Homo sapiens: one gene and its partners. The protein of the gene in region 1 interacts with the protein of each later gene in a biochemical or structural test. Each region holds a gene or a part of one and is shown in the gene's direction. Other genes may lie near its edges. The genes, in order: MACROH2A1, RNF168 and TRIM59.

Region 1 (7,527 bases):
GGGCATTAACTGCCTCAGCTTCCTGACTAGATGCAGTTACAGGCCCGCATACCACGCCCAGCTAATTTTTGTATTTTTAGTAGAGATGGGGTTTCACCATGTTAGCCAGGCTGGTCTCAAACTCCTGACCTCAAGGGATTTGCCCACCTTGGCCTGACAGAGTGCTGGGGTAATAGGCGTGGGCCACTGCGCCTGGCCAATCTTTAAAAATATTCATAACATCTTTATAATAGAGTTGGAAACAGCCTGAAAGAAGAAAAAATAAGGAGTTGGTTAAATTAACGATGGCCAAGCTTGTGGATATTGTGAAGCAGTAGTTCTCAAAATGTAGTCTGCAGTCCCCCGAAGGTCACTGAGACCCTTCCTGGAGGTACAAAAAGTCACAACTATTTTCATGTTAACATTAAGACATTATTTGACTTTTCCCTGTGTTGATCTTTGCACAAATGGTGCAAGAACAGTAGTGGATAAAACTGCTGGCGACTTACCACAAATCAGCAATGGCATCATCCCATACTCATCATCATTTTATTATTTATTATGAAGCACTCACAGCCAAAAAAAAAAAAAAAAAAAAAAAAAGAGAGCCAGTTTAACTTAAGAATGTCCTGATGAAACAGTAAAAAGCATTAATTTTATTAAATCTGACCCTTTGGAACACATTTTAAAATATTCCACGTGACCAAATGGGAAGTACGCATACAGCATTTCTACTAGGATGGTCATCTTGAGGAGAAGCACGTGTGCAATTGAGCTGTGAGTTAAACTAGCTGCTTTTCTCATGGAACACTAGCTTTTCTTGAAACAAGGGCTGACAGCAAGGCTGCATTACACTTTCATGGCCCTAGGCACTTTTACCTTCATGAGTCCCTTCTTCTATAAAACAATAGAAAAAAAATTTTACAACCGTGTTCGTAGAAAGACAAATATATTAACATTATATATTAAAATATTTTCTTCAATATAAAAGAACTAACTTTCATTTTCTTCTGATTTTAAAAGAAATTAAGACATTTTCGTGGGCCCATAAAGTCCTGGGGGCCTGAGTACTGTTTCTAATGGAGAAGCTACACCTGACAGACAAACTATGGGTATTCAGAATTGGGTGTACGTAGGGCTGAATACTCCACGAGGCACAGTTTTAATATACAATATTAATTTATTTGTCTTTATACCAGTGCAGTTGTCTTTTTAGTGGAGGAAAGGGCCCATGCAGGCAAAAATGCCTATGGCCCATGAAAGTCATAATGTGGTCCTTTGTTTGTGGTAGACATTTTCTTGAAAATGAATGAAATGAACCTGTCATTTCTAGGAAAATCACTGTGACATTATGTTGTCAGTGATAAACTTGAGCTTTCAAGCAGAAATTACAATTTTGGGAAACTCGTATCTGCCACCAAGAGCTTGACAACTTCCCAATACTCAAAAACCTTCAGATGAGATCAGTGGTGCTATTAATAGATGTGATTTTCTAATATTGTACAATGAAATGTGTTTACATTTGTAAGATCCGTATAAATCAGTGAACTGATATTTCCCAAATGATCAATGTATGATTTTACCAAATTATGCATAGCTAAAGGACCCAGTCAAGATATAAAATAGGCCAATGGATTTTAATGTATTAACTGAGTTCAAAAGTTTATTGATTTTTTTTTTCAGGTTCTACATTGCACTTAACCTTTAAGAAACGACTCCTTGCATTTTGGTGTGGTATGAAAAAAGAACATCTGTAATTATCTGAAAAGGCGATTAAAATCCTCTATTCTTTCCCATATACATATCTACATAAGGCTGAATTTTCTTCACATACTTCAAACAAAACAACATATAGTGACCGACTGAATGCAGGAGGAGGCATGAAACCAGCTATCTTCTATTACACCAGACATTCAAGAGCCGTGCAAAACTGTAAAACAATGCCACTCTTCCCACTAATTATTTTTGTTTGGAAAGTATAATTATTTTTCTAAAATACATTATTTATGTAATATAATTTCTTTCCATGTTAACATTTTTAAAATAAATTAATAAATATTTACTTTTTCTCAGTTTTTATTTCTAATAAAGCAAATATTGATAGATGTAACCTATAAAACAAAAGCTCTTCAGGGTTCTCAGTAATTTTTAAGAGGGTCAAGGGAAACCCAAACAGTTCCAGTAATGTTATTGTAGAACAACTACCCAGTAAAATGCTCATAAAGAACCATTAAGTTTAAAGTGCAGGTGACAATCACTAAATAGAGTAGAAACTCTGTATGTTTAATGTTAAGTGGATATAGATAAAAAGGCTGGAATGGGAGCAGGCTGTTCTCTCCTAGCAATGAATGTAGAGTGAGTTTTATTTTTTGAGCATTTTTATTTTTCATGTTTTCAGAATGAGCATAGCTTTGTCATTGGAAAAAAATAAAAAACCTTTAACAGAAGAAGAAGCAATAGCAGCAGCAGCAGCTGGTACCCCTCTCTGAGCCAGATTAGGGGAGGAGACAGGTCACCGAAGTGGAAGAACAGGACACACAAAGCGCAGGAGGAGAGAGGGGAGAGAAGGTGGAGGCTTCTGGAGAAGGATGAGGTCAGAGCTGCTGCACTGAACAGCTCCAGAGGACAAAGGTCCTAGTGTGTTCTATGAGAATGGCACGCTGTAGAGGGGCATGGAGGTGGGGCCGCCCCAAGATCAGCTCTTGGAGGAGTGTAGACTTTAATTCCACCTGGTGGTCCCTACAGAACGGAGAGTCCTTGCCCAAAGGCACAGAGAAGGATGGAACAACAATGTGGTGTGTGGGGGAGGGTCTCTGCACCTTTCCTGACATCTTTTCTTCGGGAGATCCTCATAGAACCATAATGCTTTGTTTTGGGACCAGAAGCATCATAAGCATCATCATTTTTCCAGCTTCATCTCCTGTTACTTTCCCCTTCACCCATTCTACTCCAACCTCACACTCGCTCTGTCTTGACTATTTTGGACACACTCCTACCCCAGCCTTTGCACTTGCTATTCCTCATGCTCGGCGCAGTTCTTCCCCAGACATCCACACGGCTTGCTCCCTCAATTTCTTCAGGCTTTAAATGTTACTTTCTCATAGAGGCCTTCTCTTGTATTTGAGCCTCACTCTTATCTCACACTTCCTATTCCCCTTCTCCGCCTTATTTTTCTCCACCCCATGGAGACCCTCTGACACATTCTCCCGTTTGTCTGTCTTTCCCCCACGAGACTGCAAACTACAGGAGGGCAGAGATTTCTGCCTGTTCTCTTGGCTGTTTCATATCCAGCACCCAAATCGATGTATGACACAAAATACGTTCTCAGTACTTAATCGAATTAACGAATGCATGAATGGCAGGTATTGGACATTGTTTTGCAAACTCTTAAAGTAAGGTGTAAAGCATCCCGGTGAGGTGGAGGTTACTGCCGCTGCGATTCCCGCGCAGCCTGAGGACTGGGGGGTGGGGGTGGGGGTCTCTAATTACCTCCATAATCCCCAGTAGCGGCACTTTAAACTTCACATCAACCCTGAGGGATGTGTATTATTATCCAAATTTAGTTCACAGCTGGATGGAGAAGTGGCTTCCGGCTCCACACTTTGGAGGGAGGGGAGTAGAGGGCAGGCCCCCATTTAAGTACCCGGGATGGGGCACCAATGCCTTCAGGCGGTAAACCAATTTAGGAAGACGTGGCGGGCTTTGTGGCGGCTCCTCCTCTTTCGGCCTGTCCGCAGTTTTTAAAAAACGTGTGTGATGATAAGGAATCACTGTCTACATTAGTAATTCCCAACTTGGGTCCGAAAGTGAACTTTTGCTGAAGCGAAGTAGCTAACCGCTTCCATGTGCAAGGCAGGTTCCAGACTTCGGGGTGAGGAGGATTAACTGAAGGACCCCAGGGGAACCGGGTGCGCAGTAATTGATCTTGGGGCAGACCAGGGCTTGGCGGTGGCCTGTATCTAAAGACAGCGGGGTCTCTGAGGCGGGGCAGGGGGGAGTTGGCATTGACTGGGGAGGGAAGAGCGATCGCTGGTAACAGCCATTGTGCCTTCCCACTGGGTTAGTGGGAAGGTTCCTAAAGATGCCGTGGCAGCGACAGTCCCGTGCTCAGAGCCAGGCACACAGTAGGCGTTCACTCGAGACGCAGAGTCTGGGACGCGCCCTGAAGAAGCTCCTCTCCAGGGGCCTGGCCCTTCCCAAGGACTGGGCTCTGGGCGTCCCCGGGGTCATGGGTCAGACCTCGCGTCCGGGGTGCGGGCTGGTGCCTGGGCGCAGAGCGGCCGGCGTCAACGGGTAGGGCGCGGGCCCGGGGTCAAGGCCGGGGCGCCGGGCGGCACGGGCGCGGAGGCCGGACGCTCGGGGCCGCGAAGGGATGTGACGAGCGGCGCGCTGTGCATTGTGGGAAGCCGGCCGCGAGGACTGGTTCCAGTTCACTCGGCAGCGGCGCCGGGCGGAGGGGGAGAGCGCGGGCCGCGCGGGCGGGAAGCGAAGAGGCGGGCGGGCCAGCGAGGAGCGCGGAGAGAAAAGGCGCGAGCGGCCAGGAGGGCTCAGGCCGAGACACCTTGCAGCTGCCGCCGCCGCCACCGAGCCGCCGCGTAAGTGCCGCGCGGGCCCCCTTGCCGCACTCCCTGTCCCCGCCGCTCGGGTCCGGCCGCGGGTGCCCGGGAGCGGCCCGGCCTGGCGCGCACCGGTGTGGTGCGGGCCGGGCTCGGGCCGCCGGGTTCGGTGTGGCCCACGCCGGGTCCTCGCGCGTGCACTACGTCCTCCCAGGCCTTGTCGGGCCGCGCGGGATTCCCTTTGGTTTTGTTCAAAAAAGAAACCTGGAAACCAACTTCTCTTCGAAACGCATCCCCCTGCCCGCGCCTGGGCGCTTTTGTGGGAAAAAAGCGGTGCTGGCGCCTACCCTGGCGACCCTTCCTGGGGCGGGCTCACGGGCCAGGCCCGAGGCCGCAGGAGGCCCCGCGGCGCTGGCTAGGCAGTCTGGGCCTGGGCACCCGGGAGCTGCTGTGAGCAGAGTTGTACTTGGTGAGGCCCCCGCCGGCCCGCGAGTTGCCGGCCCCGGCACAATAAGTCGGGCCCGAGCCCCGGGGGGCCGAGGTGTAGGCGTCTGGCTCGCTATCTGCAGGGAGGGGAAGGCGGGGGCTACTCGCGGGATTGAAGCCGGGCTGGTGCGGGGGACCGGGTTGGGGAGTGGTCCAAGGATGGGCTGGAGAGGGGCCACGGGAACCCCCGCTGCTCCCGATTGTCTCGGTATCAGCCTTTTGTTTGCTTTGTGGTAGGAAGGGTTTGCTTTTTTTAAAAGGTAACTCCGGAAGGCTGTAGGCTTCCCCGGGTGGAGAAGGCCAGCAGGAAAGAGCCTCGCTGGGGGTGGGGTGGAGTGGGGAGGTGAGTGTGCAGGATGCTGCTGGCAGTGTCACCTGACAACAGGTGTGCGACATGGCGCTCCCTACCCCCACTCCTGCAGGGGCCACAGATCACTCAAGGAGTTGGTCAGTACATTGCTTGAAAGGTTCTTTTAGACAAGATGTTAGGGGAAATGTTTCTGAGTTTCAAAGTGAGAGACTTCTGTACAAACAACTGGGACAAACCTTGAATTCAACAATTACAATGACTATAAAGGCCTTGTAAGATTTTAATGACCCAGTAAACAGCACATAAGAATAGACAATTAGAGGGGGCACTCCTGCTAGCTTCCCTCTTTTCTTCCACCTTTGTGGTTTGAGGTTTTACCGTTAAAGTAGGGGGTAAGGGAAGTGTTTTGTTCCAAAGCTCCCTGCTCCAGGGAGTCGGGCATTTTTTAACAGTCTTAGGTTTGAATGGGAGACTCGAGTTGTAAATTAGGTGGAATTCACCTACTGCAGGCCACCTTTAGGCTACTAGCCTGTTGTCAGAGGTGTTAACTCTGAAATGGACACCTCTTGCCTGCAACTGGAATTAATACCCATTGTACACATTTAACTAGAGTTGGGCAGCAGCATCTCAGTCTTGCACAAGAGACTCTCTGATGAGGATGAGTATGTTTTCAAACTTATTTTTTCTTAAACACAACAAAACTCTTGAAAGACTTCAAATTCTTCCCCCTTCTAGTTTTACAAGGAGAGAGAAATCTTTCCAGTCTGTTCTTTGGCTTCGATCTGTCACCATTGTTAATGCTGATCCCTAGATAAGGCATTAAGAGGGTTGTCTAAATGAAAATTGTTTGAGGCAGGCCTTTAGAAGGAGGCATAATTTAACTCACATTTTATTAAACTTTAAGAATTGTCTGGAACTTCACATGTGACATTCTAGTATACAACCATGCCACTGGTTTAGTTTTTACCAAATGGGCCAGTGTCAGGGAGTGACACATCTCCATCTGATGTTTCTTCTGGTCCCTGAGAGAGGCGAACTTGAGGAGCGCCTCGCATTCCTTCCCCACTGAGAAGCTCAGAGGGCATGTGTTCTGGGACCTGCCTTCAGAGCTAATGCGGCCCCAAGTCACCTAAAGGAGATTTATTTAAATAAAAGCATAAACTGAAAACCTCAAGCCGAAGAACCCAACAAGACTCTATATGTGTTGTTCATCAGAACTGCAACAGCCTCTGGTTTTATTTGAGTGTCCCCAAGGATTTGTGACAGCCTTTTCAGAGCCCCATTCCTAGAACATGGGCTGGGAAGGGGCAGGAGTGATTGGGGCCCAGATCTCTGTGGGTCCTTCCCATATTCTGTAGGTTTAGAGGTCTTTTGGGCCCTGCCTCAGTGCTTACAAGTGAGCCTGAGTGAGTCAACTCTTCATTCCAAAGAGTTGTATAGCTTGTTTGCTTGGACCAAACCTGTCAGGTCAGTGTCTCAGAGTCTTTCCATAAAGATTTCCTGAGAATCAGCTCCTGTTCAGGCACTGGGGACACAGCCGTGATTAAGAAATGCCTAGCCCCTACCTTGGGGGAGCTGACTTTGGGAGAAGGCAGGCAAGTAGCTGTTGTAAAATCAGTGCAAAAGGCCCCACGTAGCCCCCCAGCAGGTACAGTAACCTAGCCAGGAGTGAGCCCTTATCTGGCTTGGAAAGGTCAAGCAGGAGATGGCTGGGCAAAGGAGGGCAGATGGGGACAAGTGTTTGAGGCCTGGGGAACCCCATGTGTGCATCTTAGAAGAAAAGAACAGAGGTCATGTGGGGAACTGCCAGAGGCTCGGGATGGCTGAGTCCTGGTGCGGAGTCAGGTGAGGCTTCAGGGAGGGACAAACAGGACAAATCACAAAGGATTCTGGTCAGACCCACACTTTATCCTAAGAGCAACTGAAGGGTTTTGAGCAGGAGAGAGACAGGATCAGGTGTTCTTTTTATTCTTATTGGGAACACGTCTACTCGGCAAATAATGAGTGGATTCTACATGCTAAGCCTTATCAGAGTCCTGTCCTGTGAAGCCCACACTTTAACTTTTCTCTAAATAGCCTTCCGTGAGACTGGTTATCTTAAGAGTTTGGCACAACCTTTAAAAGAGAGAGGAGTATGTAGAAAAGTTTTTTTGTAAAGCAGGCAGGCAGTAACTTGCTGTTAAAATGTAGCAAGCT
Region 2 (4,663 bases), on another chromosome or scaffold:
AAAGAAAGAAAGAAATATATACCTTATTAGTAATAATAATGTATAGTGACAGTCCAGCTGTAGTATCAGTGTAATTAGACTTACATCTTATGATTTGATATTTTCCCCTGGTTCACTCAGTCTTTTTCTGTTTTCTACAGGACATTGACAGTAGTGATAGGAAAAGCCCAACAGGGCAAGACACAGAAATAGAAGATATGCCGACACTTTCTCCACAGATATCCCTTGGAGTTGGAGAACAAGGTGCAGATTCTTCAATAGAGTCCCCTATGCCATGGTTATGTGCCTGTGGTGCCGAATGGTACCATGAAGGAAACGTCAAAACAAGACCAAGCAATCATGGGAAAGAGTTATGTGTCTTAAGTCACGAGCGACCTAAAACCAGAGTTCCCTACTCGAAAGAAACTGCAGTTATGCCTTGTGGCAGAACAGAAAGTGGGTGCGCCCCCACATCAGGGGTGACACAGACAAATGGAAACAACACAGGTGAGACAGAAAATGAAGAGTCGTGCCTACTGATCAGTAAGGAGATTTCCAAAAGAAAAAACCAAGAATCTTCCTTTGAAGCAGTCAAGGATCCATGCTTTTCTGCAAAAAGAAGAAAAGTGTCCCCCGAATCTTCCCCAGATCAAGAGGAAACAGAAATAAACTTTACCCAAAAACTGATAGATTTGGAGCATCTACTGTTTGAGAGACATAAACAAGAAGAACAGGACAGGTTATTGGCATTACAACTTCAGAAGGAGGTGGATAAAGAGCAAATGGTGCCAAACCGGCAAAAAGGATCCCCAGATGAGTATCACTTACGCGCTACATCCTCCCCTCCAGACAAAGTGCTAAATGGACAGAGGAAGAATCCCAAAGATGGGAACTTCAAAAGGCAAACTCACACAAAGCATCCAACACCAGAGAGAGGCTCAAGGGACAAAAATAGGCAAGTGTCTTTAAAGATGCAGTTGAAGCAGTCAGTTAATAGAAGAAAGATGCCAAATTCTACTAGAGATCACTGTAAGGTATCCAAAAGTGCTCACTCCCTACAGCCTAGCATTTCACAGAAAAGTGTTTTTCAGATGTTTCAGAGATGCACAAAGTAAGGCCTGGTAAAGGGAGTGCTTTGTGATCTAGTAAAGCTGGAATGTGAAGCTCTTTCCTATCATGGAATCTTCATCCATGTGTCATTCATGCTGCTCTCTAGGCACACTCATTGTCCTTAATGAAGGTCTGTGTGATTGTAAGGACTGCATAGACACATGAGCTTCTGCACAGCTCAGCGGTAAGCAGGGGTCCCCTGTCGTTTCCCTTCTTAATAACAGATGTGTATTAAGCTTTACAATTCTTAGAGATATCTTAAGCTTTGGCCAACTCCAGGAAATCTTCAAGTGCCATTGTCTTTCCAAAAACTGCATGTTTTATGGCCTTTGCTCACCTTTTTGTCGTGACTGGTAATCAAAGCAAGATTATACTATTCTGAGTGATTAAGGAACCCATGCAGGGTTTAAAATCCATTTTCTTGCTATTGTCCAATGTTTACAGAGTACTCAAAAGGTTTTCCTAAAGTAATCTAATTTCCATCTCCAATTTAATTCAATTTTCAGCATTGTAGCATTTCCTTTGGTGTTTGTTTTTTTTTTTTAGACGGAGTTTCAAAATTTGGATTCATATTCATATGTGGGAAATCCCAGATTTTTTTTTTTTTTTTTTTTTTTTTTTTTTTTTGGAGACAGAGTCTTGCTCTGTCACGCAGGCTGGTGTGCAATGGCGCGATCTCAGCTCACTGCAACCTCCGCCTCCCGAGTTCAAGCGATTCTTCTGCCTCAGCCTCCCGAGTAGCTGGGATCATAGGCATGTGCCACTACACCCAGCTACCCAGCTAATTTTTTTTTTTTTTTGTACTTTTAGTAGAGATGGGATTTCACCATGTTGGCCAGGCTGGTCTTGAACTCCTGTCCTCAGGTGATCCACCTGCTTCGGCCTCCCAGAGTGCTGGGATTATAGGCGTGAGCCACCACGCCCGGCCTGTTTCCTTTGGTTTAAAGTGGATTCGAATCAGTGTTAAATCAGAAAATCAGGGTTTTCTAGGAAATTGGGAATTAGTTGCCAGAAAGGAAACTGAACTATGCAGAAGGAGTTAAGAGCTGGGATGAGGCTGGATGGGGTGACTGACAGTCCAGATCATTGAAACAGATTGGGTCGTCGGAAACTGGTCCAGATGAGGCTGGATGGGGTGACTGACAGTCTGGATCATTGAAACTGATTAGGTCGTCAGAAACGGGTCCAGACGAGGATGAGGCTGAGGCTGGATGGGGTGACTGACAGTCTGGATCATTGAAACTGATTGGGTGGTTGGTCAGAAACGGGTCCAGATGAGGATGAGGCTGAGGCTGGATGGGGTGACTGACAGTCTGGATCATTGAAACTGATTGGGTGGTTGGTCAGAAACGGGTCCAGATGAGGATGAGGCTGGATGGGGTGACTGACAGTCTGGATCATTGAAACTGATTGGGTCGTCAGAAACTGGTCCAGATGAGGCTGGGTGGGGTGACTGACAGTTTGGATCATTGAAACTGATTGGGTGGTCAGAAACTGGTCCAGATGAGGATGTGGCTGGATGGGGTGACTGACAGTCTGGATCATTGAAACTGATTGGGTGGTCAGAAACTGGTCCAGATGAGGATGTGGCTGGATGGGGTGACTGACAGTCTGGATCATTGAAACTGATTGGGTGGTGAGAAATGGGTCCAGATGAGGATGAGGCTGGATGGGGTGACTGACAGTCTGGATCATTGAAACTGATTGGGTGGTGAGAAATGGGTCCAGATGAGGATGAGGCTGGATGGGGTGACTGACAGTCTGGATCATTGAAACTGGTCCACTATGACGCAGCAGGGGCAGTTTGGCAGAGCATCCTCTTCCCTTGTCCTTGTGAAAGAACACAGGAAACATTTGGGTTTTACAGCTTTTCACACCCTACTATCAGGCATCAGAATCAAAATTAGTTACTAAATTGGGTGAATTTTTGGAAACCTGCATTTCTATGCATCTGCTATTCCAGAAAAAAATGGGAATGTATTACAGGAGAGTTACCTCACAGTGTCTTATGTTGTGGAACCTGAAACATAACCACGTGTTTTCTTATATGATCATTTGTGTTGATACTGCTTTTATTTGAGTTTATGAACAGAAATAGAAAGTATGGTGCTTGGGTTTTGCCCTTTCTTACTCCTGAAAGTTAAATCAGAAGACACTGATTTCATTTTGTGAAATTTAGCTCAGAGACTATTGATCTTTTGTTTCATTAATATGAACAACTATTAGTAAAAAATAGCTTTAACAGCATTTCTGCTGATATCTAGTAATCTATTCTTTTAATGTGAAAATAAGATAAAATGTCCTGGAGCTAATTCTAGCTTAAATTTGCCAGTATTTCTGTATGTCATTAAGTTTTTTTCCTCTAAGGTTGGTAATAGAATTTTGTTAATCTTTGCATACCTGATGGCATCTATGTCAATGCTGATTGGGTAATTATAAATTCTGTGCTAATTTAAAACTTAATTTGCCTCTTAAGGTGATTGTCCTCTGAGTAATGATTGTAGTTAAATGAAGTATAGCTTGCAACTATACTATCACATGGGTCGTTAAGTAAAAATAAATAAACCAAATTTGTCTGAGACAGGCTAAGATCAATCTTCTCATCAAACCAATTTTTCTCTAAGAGCAATTTCACTTTCAGTTTTAGGGTGGACATTCTTGAATGCCTCAAATTAAACGTTATCTATTTAATCTTCCTGGAATAGTCTGTGACCAAAAAGGAGGGTGTGATATATTTAGGTGTAAATATATCACATATATGGTGTGATATATTTGGGATTTATATATTCAGCTCATTCTCTGTGAAGAAGTCTTCCTGACTAAAATTGGTTTCAAGATAAACTAATTTCTGTTAGTATTTCTACTCTGCCTACCATGTATGCCTTTTTGTTAGAAACTAATAAATGTATCAGTCACTAGCAGGTACTGGTCCTTTTTCCTCTCATTTTTGTGGAAAGGATATGCAAACACTGAATTTCTCAGGGAGTACTAAGGCTGTGCAGAGGCTGAGAATCTGAAAAATAAAATACTAAAAATAAAAATGGATTATTATGTGTATTTTACCACAACTTAAAAATATGTAAAAATCAGCTACATGAAAATTAAAAGTTCTGCATAACAAAAACTACCATCAAGGGAAATTGGAAGCTGTGGCAAACTTGGGAAGAAATAGTTGCAGTTCATCACAAAGAGCTAATTTCCTTTATGTAAAGTATCCTCCAGTTCATTAAGAAAAGACCAATAACTCGGCCGTGCATGGTGGCTCACACCTGTAATCCCAGCACTTTGGGAGGCCGAGGCAGGCAGATCACCTGAAGTCAGGAGTTTGAAACCAGCCTGGCCAACATGGGGAAACGCCGTCTCTACTAAAAATACAAAAATTAGCCGGGTGTGGTGGCGTGTGCCTGTAATCCCAACTATTCGGGAGGCTGAGACAGAGAATTGCTTGAACCCAGGAGGCGGAAGTTGCAGTGAGCCAAGATTGTGCCACTGCACTCCAGCCTGGGTGACAGACTGGAGACTCCGTCTCAAAAAAAAAAAAAAAAGAAAAAAAAGAAAAGTCCTCAATAGGAGA
Region 3 (7,000 bases), on another chromosome or scaffold:
GAGAATCTAATGCTGACACTGGCAGGAGGCGGAGCTCAGGTGGGCTCGAGGCGGAGCTCAGGTGGGCTTGCCCGCCACCATGGTGGGGGCGCAGGGTGGGTAGGAAGGGTTGAGGACCCCTGCATTAAATGATAACTCTACATCTTCCCTGCTCTCAAGCCCTGGCAACTACCATTCTACTTTCTGTCTTTGAGGACTGCTTATTGGTTTTGATATTATATATATTATATGCTTTTTTCACATATAATGTGAATGTAAATTTTTTTTCCATTGAACTAATTGACTGAATTATATTAATAGATTTTTCGTTATTGAATTAACTTTGTATTTCTGGAAAGAACCTTATTTAGTCATGGTACAGTGTTTTTTTTAATGTACTCCTGTGTTTGTTTTTGCTAACATTGTATTTAGAATTTTACATCAGTGTCCATTTTTGAAATTAGTCCATTTTTAGTTTGTATTGTCTCAGGTTTTGGAATCATGTTATACTGTCTTCAAAATATTTAGCAAACTTTTCATATTTGTATTCTGGAACAGTTGAGTAGGGCCTAGTCCACACTCAAGGGAGAGGAGATTTCAAGAGTATCCAGAAAGTGTAGGTCATTGGGGGCCATTTTAGAGGCTACCTATCACAGATAGCTAATGGCTTGTTTATTTACTTAAAGAACCAATTCTTAGACTGGTCATGGTGGCTCACAGCTGTAATCTCAGCACTTTGGGAGGCTGAGGGGGGAAGGATGTCTTGAGGCTAGGGGTTTGAGACCAGCCTGGGCAACGTAGTGAGACCCTATCTCTACAAAGCATAAAAACATTAGGCATGTGTGTTAACATGCACCTATCAGCTACTTGGGAGGCTGAGCTGGGAGGATTGTTTGAGCCTGGGAAGTTGAGGCTGCAGTGAGCCATGGTCACACCACTGCATTCCAGCCCTGGTGACAGAGCAAGACTCAGTCTCAAAAAGAGCCATCTCTTGGGTTTATCAGTTCTAGCAATTTTTTTTTTTTTTTTTTTTTGAGACAGAGTCTTGCTCTGTCACCCAGACTGGAGTGCAGTGGCATGATCTCAGCTCACTGCAATCTCCGCCTCCCAGGTTTAAGCGATTCTCCTGCCTCAGCCTCCCGAGTAGCTGGGATTATAGGCGTCTGTCACCCTGCCCAGCTAATTTTTGTATTTTTAGTAGAGATGGGGTTTTGTCATGTTGGCTAGGCTGGTCTTGAACTCCTGACTTCAGGTGGTCCGCCTGTCTCGGCCTCCCAAGGTGCTGGGATTGCAGGTGTGAGCCACAGTGCCCAGCCAGTTCTAGCAATTTAAGTTTTCTAGTTCATTATCATCTTCCATTTATCTTTATTCTTTTTTTATTTTTTGAGACAAAGTGTGGCTCTGTAGTCTAGGCTGGAATGCAGTGGAACGACCGTGGCTCATGGCTCATTGCAGCCTGGACCTCCCAGGCTCAAGCAATCCTCCCTCCTCAGCCTCCTGAGTAGCTGGGACTAACAGGCGTGCGCCACCATACTTAGCTAAGTTTTTTATTTTTTGTAGAGATGGGGTTTCACTGTGTTGCCAGGGCTGGTCTCGAATTGCTGGGCTCAAGTGATCCTCCCACCTTGGCCTTCCACAGTGCTGGGATTACAGGTATGAGCCATTACACCAGGCCAATTTTTATTCTTTTTTTTCCACTTTTCCTCTTTTTTTTTTTTAGTTGAATTATTTTATATTCCTTTTGGTTTGGTAAGTAAAGTGTATGGTGTCAGCTCTGCCCATGTAATTTTTTTTTAGCTCTGTAGATTTTACTGAAGAGTATTTCTGTTGTTTCACATGAATAAATTATGTCGTGGCTGTGTACAGAATTCTCAGCTCATATCCCTTTCCTTCTAGTCTTTGTGGACATTGCTACATTCTGTTCTAGCATTCCTTGTTGCTGGTGATGTTCTGGTTATTTCCTGCTGTGTAACAAACATCTGAAAGCTTGGCTGGCCAGATATTCAAGATGTCTTTTTCACTCATGTGTCTGGAAACTCCTTGCCCTTCTATTTGGCCTGTCTCTTCAGCAAAGTAGCCTGGACTTCTTACATAGCAGTTTGTGGCTCCGAGGCAGCAACCTGCCAAACTAGTTAAGGGCTATACCTAGAACTCACCACATCACTTATACTGTATCCTATTGGTCAGAACAGTCACATGGCCCACACATATTCTAATGGGGGAGAATAGATTTCATCTCCATGTGCAGGGAGTAGCAGCAAAGTCACATTATAGGACAGCTCATGTGGGAGATAATTATTGTGGCCATTCCAATTTTGGAAATTCCAGTCTCCCAGAGGAGGATTCTGAGACCTTTGGTTTAGTTTTCCTTTTTTCATCCTTCTTTTCTGTGTGGATACTTGTAGAATTGTTCTTATTTCTTTAAAATTGTATTATATTTTTAATTGCTTAATAGTTAAAAGCGAAACCATGATTTATAATGAAAAACAGATTCTTTCCCTCTAGAAGCCATCACTTTTATCTGCTTTAACATTTCTTTTGGTATTTTCTTTTATATTTCTAGATATTTATTTTTTGTGGGTTATTTTTTAAGTATGTATTGACTTTCTTATAAGGAAAAATTAAGATTTAGTTCTTAAACTGTTTCCTTCCCTTATTTTCCCCCTCAATATAATTTTGTTACTCTTTGGTAAAATCAGTATTTGATATTTACAATATTATGACTGTTACAGTGACAGCTGAGCCATATACTATAATATTAATATTTCCTCTCTTTTCATGATTCTATCACGTTTTTTCCCTAAATTTAGTTACCTCTCAATATGTTTCATATACATGAAGCATTTCTGTCAGTTCCATTTATTTACTTAAAGATCTGTCTTCTGCATGCCTGAAATCACAGCACTTTGGGAGGTCGAGGCAGGTGGATCATGAGGTCAGGAGATTGAGACCAACCTGGCTATCATGGTGAAACCCCATCTCTACTAAAAATACAAAAAAATTAGCTGGGCGTGGTGGCGGGCGCCTGTAGTCCTAGCTGCTCGGGAAGCTGAGGCAGGAGAATGGCATGAACCCAGGAGGCGGAGCTTGCAGTGAGAGGAGATAGCGGCCACTGCACTCCAGCCTGGGCGACAGAGCGAGACTCTGTTTCAAAAAAAAAAAGATCTGTCTTTTGGATCTTTCTTCCTCTTCTAGAGTGACTCTTCCCTAGGCTTTCACAGTTGTCCTGGACTTCATTTCGCCATTATGCTGGCGAACATTCTTGCTTTTCTTTTCTCCCTGCAGTAGCTTCTTTAGAAAGAGTTGGAAGAAGGTTGTTCATTTTTGAGATCTTATATTGTCCAACTGTCTTTATATAAAAATGGATTATTTTTTTTCTAGGTATAGAGTTTTAATTTCCATTTCAGAAGCCATTTTTTTTCCCCTGAGAATATCAAAGGCATTACTCCATTGTCTTATTGTTTCCAGTGTTACTGATGTTTTTACTGTTTGGAAACCTACATACAGCATAGCTAAATCCAAGATGTTCATCCTAGAAAATATACATAGGTTAATTTTTTGTTCTTTTTCTTCCTTTCAGAAGCCTAGACTGGTTGTGGAAAATTTCTGCTGCATAAAATTTCATATTGGTTTCTGAAAGAACTAGCCTGTAAGCATGGTAGCCACCTGTATCTTTTTTTTTTCTAAAAAAGGCAGGGTCTTGCTCTGTTGCCTAGGCTGGAGTGCAGTGGCACAGTCGTGGCTCACTGCAGCCTCAACTTCTTGGGCTCAAGTGATCCTCCTGCCTCAGCTCCCCGCGTAGCTGGGATTATAGGCGTGTATCACTGTGCCTGACTAATGTTTAATTTTTTGTAGAGAATGGGGGTCTCTTGGTGTTGCCCAGGTTGGTCTTGAACTCCTGGCTTCAAGTGATCTTCCCACCTTGGCCTCCCAAAGTGCTGGAATTACAGGTGTGAACCACTGCACCTGGCCCACCTATATAGTTTACTTCTCAGGCAGCAACCAGAGTCAGAAAGTTCCTGACCTTACAAAGTTATTTTTCAGTTCTAGTTTCTCTTGAATTTGTTGCCTAAAATTAGTTTTTAATCAATAAATCAGTGAGAAAAGGGTAGTCTGAGAATAGATTTTGACTTCTGTGAACTTCAAGTTATCCACAAATTTTTGTCTAAAAAGTATTATTAAAAATTTTACATATGATAGCAGTAACTTTGAGACCAACCACGATTTTTGCTTCCTATTTTTTTTTTTTCCTTTTTTTGAGACAGAGTCTTGCTCTGTTGCCCTGGCTGGAGTGCAGTTGCGCCATTTCATGCCTCAGCTTCCCGAGTAGCTGGGATTATAGGGATTACAGGTGTGCGCCACCATGCCTGGCTAATTTTTGTATTTTTAGTAGATACAGGGTTTCACCATGTTGGCCAGGCTGGTCTCAAACTCCTTGCCTCAAGTGATCCACCTGCTTTGGCCTGCTTCCATTTTATATAAGCTTAGGATATGCTTTACAATGTCATGAATATTCTCATTCTAAAGAAAGTTGAGCTTTTGGGCCCCTAAGTGCATTCTCAGAGTTGTTCCCTAGTTTTCTGCAAGCATAGAATAGGGGTTTGGATAGAAAAGTTAGATTCTGTTTTAGGACTAGTTTTGCTACTTAAACAATTGAATAGCTCCAGTAATATTAAATCTAGATTAAATGTACGTCGACTGCTCAAATTTTATTTCCTACAAAGTGTTATTCTGTTTATTCCTTCAATGTGAATTCTGACATCACTGAAATACTCTGAAAAACACATTTGTTTTTCTTGGGTGGTTTCTGTATGACTTCATAGCTTTCTGTAGGTGTAGGGTAAAGTTGTAAAGTCTTGCCAGCATGCACTCACTTGAATTTATCTGCAGTGAATGTCATCTTCTTTACTGTTGCTCAATTACTTTAATTTGCTGGAATGCTCTACAGTTCAAGCTTAGTCTCTGTGTGACACACTTTGGCTCATTCGGGATCTGAATATTGTCAGTTTGAATGGAGTGCTTTTTTTCTTTTTTCTTTTTTTTTTTTTTTTTTTGAGATGGAGTCTCACTCTGTTGCCCAGGCTGGTGTGCAGTGGTGTGAACTTGGCTCACTGCAAGCTCTGCCTCCCGGGTTGACGCCATTCTCCTGCCTTAGCCTCCCAAGTGGCTGGGACTACAGGCGCCCACCACCACACCTGGCTAATTTTTTTGTATTTTTAGTAGAGACGGGGTTTCACCCTGTTAGGCAGGATGGTCTCAATCACCTGACCTCATGATTCACCCACCTCGGCCTCCCAAAGTGCGGAGATTACAGGCGTGAGCCCCCGCACCTGGCCTGAATGGAGTATTTTCTGATAGATTTTCGTTTTACACCTTTTCCTAAGCAGAGATTTTGCTATTAAAAAAACAAAAAACAAAAAACCCCAAAACAAAAATCTGTATTAACACAGGTCTCTGAAAAGGCATTTGTTCATTGAAGCAGTAACAAGTGAATGCCTGCAGTGTTAAAATTTGTGCCTAAATTGCAGGAATATAACCATTGTTTAGACACAATTCCTGCCCTTATAGGAGGCCTACATTCTAATGTATACAGAAAAGTTACAAAATTCTTAAATAAAATCTTGTTAAAGTGCTATGAAGTAAAAATGCAGTGTTTAATGAGAATAACAGGGGACCTAATCTGGGGAAAAGGCAGGCTCAAGTTGAGCCTTGAAGGAAGAGTTAAGAGTTTGACAGATCGTAAAGATAAGGAGCCAAGTTTGCATTTTATTAAAAATGCAGTTAGTTACTTTTAGTTGCTGTTTTCACAGATTTTTAATCTTAAAAGTTAGTTTTATAGCATGTGATTTGGTAACCTTTATATTTTACGTGAATGGCACTTGGGTGTTTATTTTTTTTGAGACGGAGTTTCGCTCTTGTTGTCCAGATGAGTGCGGTGGTGTAATCTTGGCTCACTGCAACCGCCACCTACTGAGTTCAAGCAATTCTCCTGTCTCAGCCTCCCAAGTAGCTGGGATTACACGCATTTGACACCACACTGGGCTAATTTTGTATTTTTAGTAGAGATGGAGTTTCTCCATGTTGGTCAGGCTGGTCTCAAACTCCCAACCTCAGGTGATCCGCCCGCCTCGGCCTCCCAAAGTGCTGGGATTATATGCGTGAACCACTGCGCCTGGCCATGGCACTTGGGTTTTTAAGTTTTGCCTAAGGTACTTTCAACAGTGGTATAACTTGATTTTTCTCTATCAAGGGGTAAGCTAGTCTTTAGAATTGTGGCTGATGCATTGAGGGTAGGTATAAAGGAAAGCAGTAGGAGGTGGTAGGGTGCAAAATGGTCAGGCTTCTGTTACTGGAAATATCAGTAGTAGCTTGCCAAGAGGTCAAGTTACTTGTGTCAGAGATGGTCTCTGAACTATCGCTACGTTTCTTTTTCTGTCTCAGAGAAATACGGATCGAGAGACTTTCATGAAGGAAAGATGACTAATGGTCTTCTTTTTGTTCTTTACCATTTAGTGCTCTAGTTTTTCACTTAAAAATTAATTCACAGTTACTATAGTCAACTCTTATCTTTCAAACTGATTTTTATTATAAGAATTAATTCAAAATTTTTCTGTCTTCTAAATCTGCAAGTTAAAATTATTGCTTTAGAGAATTATACTATGCTGATCCTGGGGTTTAAGCGTTCTTGTATTCTAATTTGAGAAGCTAAAAAATTTATGGTAGTAACAGTTACTGTGGAGAAATTTGATAGCTTGCTTTAGAAACCATTATTGAGCCAACTGGGACATGTTTCCTCCTTTTGTGTTAAAGAATATACTTTTGCTAAGCCTAACTTGTTGTAATAGAAATAGTCTTGTCTACTCATTATATGTGCTTGGTTTTGATTTTATCATCTTAAATGTTAAAATGTTGCACAAAATAGTTGTAATCACTAAGTAGACTTTAACAGAACACTTTGAATTTTAGTCTTTATTATGTAGTGTATTAGTCTGTTTTCATGCTGCTGATAAAGACATACCTG

What was found.
Region 2: of the proteins of MACROH2A1 (region 1) and RNF168, one has a biochemical effect on the other in vitro, tested with the Homo sapiens proteins (one study listed by BioGRID).
Region 3: of the proteins of MACROH2A1 (region 1) and TRIM59, one has a biochemical effect on the other in vitro, tested with the Homo sapiens proteins (one study listed by BioGRID).

Annotation. Positions count from the first base shown.
Region 1 is NC_000005.10:135,396,109-135,403,635, reverse strand, and holds the start of MACROH2A1 (core histone macro-H2A.1), read left to right. Parts: upstream 1-4,404; 5' UTR 4,405-4,574; intron 4,575-7,527. UniProt on the Homo sapiens protein: Variant histone H2A which replaces conventional H2A in a subset of nucleosomes where it represses transcription. Nucleosomes wrap and compact DNA into chromatin, limiting DNA accessibility to the cellular machineries which require DNA as a template.
Region 2 is NC_000003.12:196,468,250-196,472,912, reverse strand, and holds the end of RNF168 (E3 ubiquitin-protein ligase RNF168), read left to right. Parts: intron 1-140; coding exon 141-1,094; 3' UTR 1,095-4,130; downstream 4,131-4,663. UniProt on the Homo sapiens protein: E3 ubiquitin-protein ligase required for accumulation of repair proteins to sites of DNA damage. Acts with UBE2N/UBC13 to amplify the RNF8-dependent histone ubiquitination.
Region 3 is NC_000003.12:160,439,787-160,446,786, reverse strand, and holds part of TRIM59 (tripartite motif-containing protein 59), read left to right. Parts: intron 1-7,000. UniProt on the Homo sapiens protein: E3 ubiquitin ligase involved in different processes such as development and immune response. Serves as a negative regulator for innate immune signaling pathways by suppressing RLR-induced activation of IRF3/7 and NF-kappa-B via interaction with adapter ECSIT.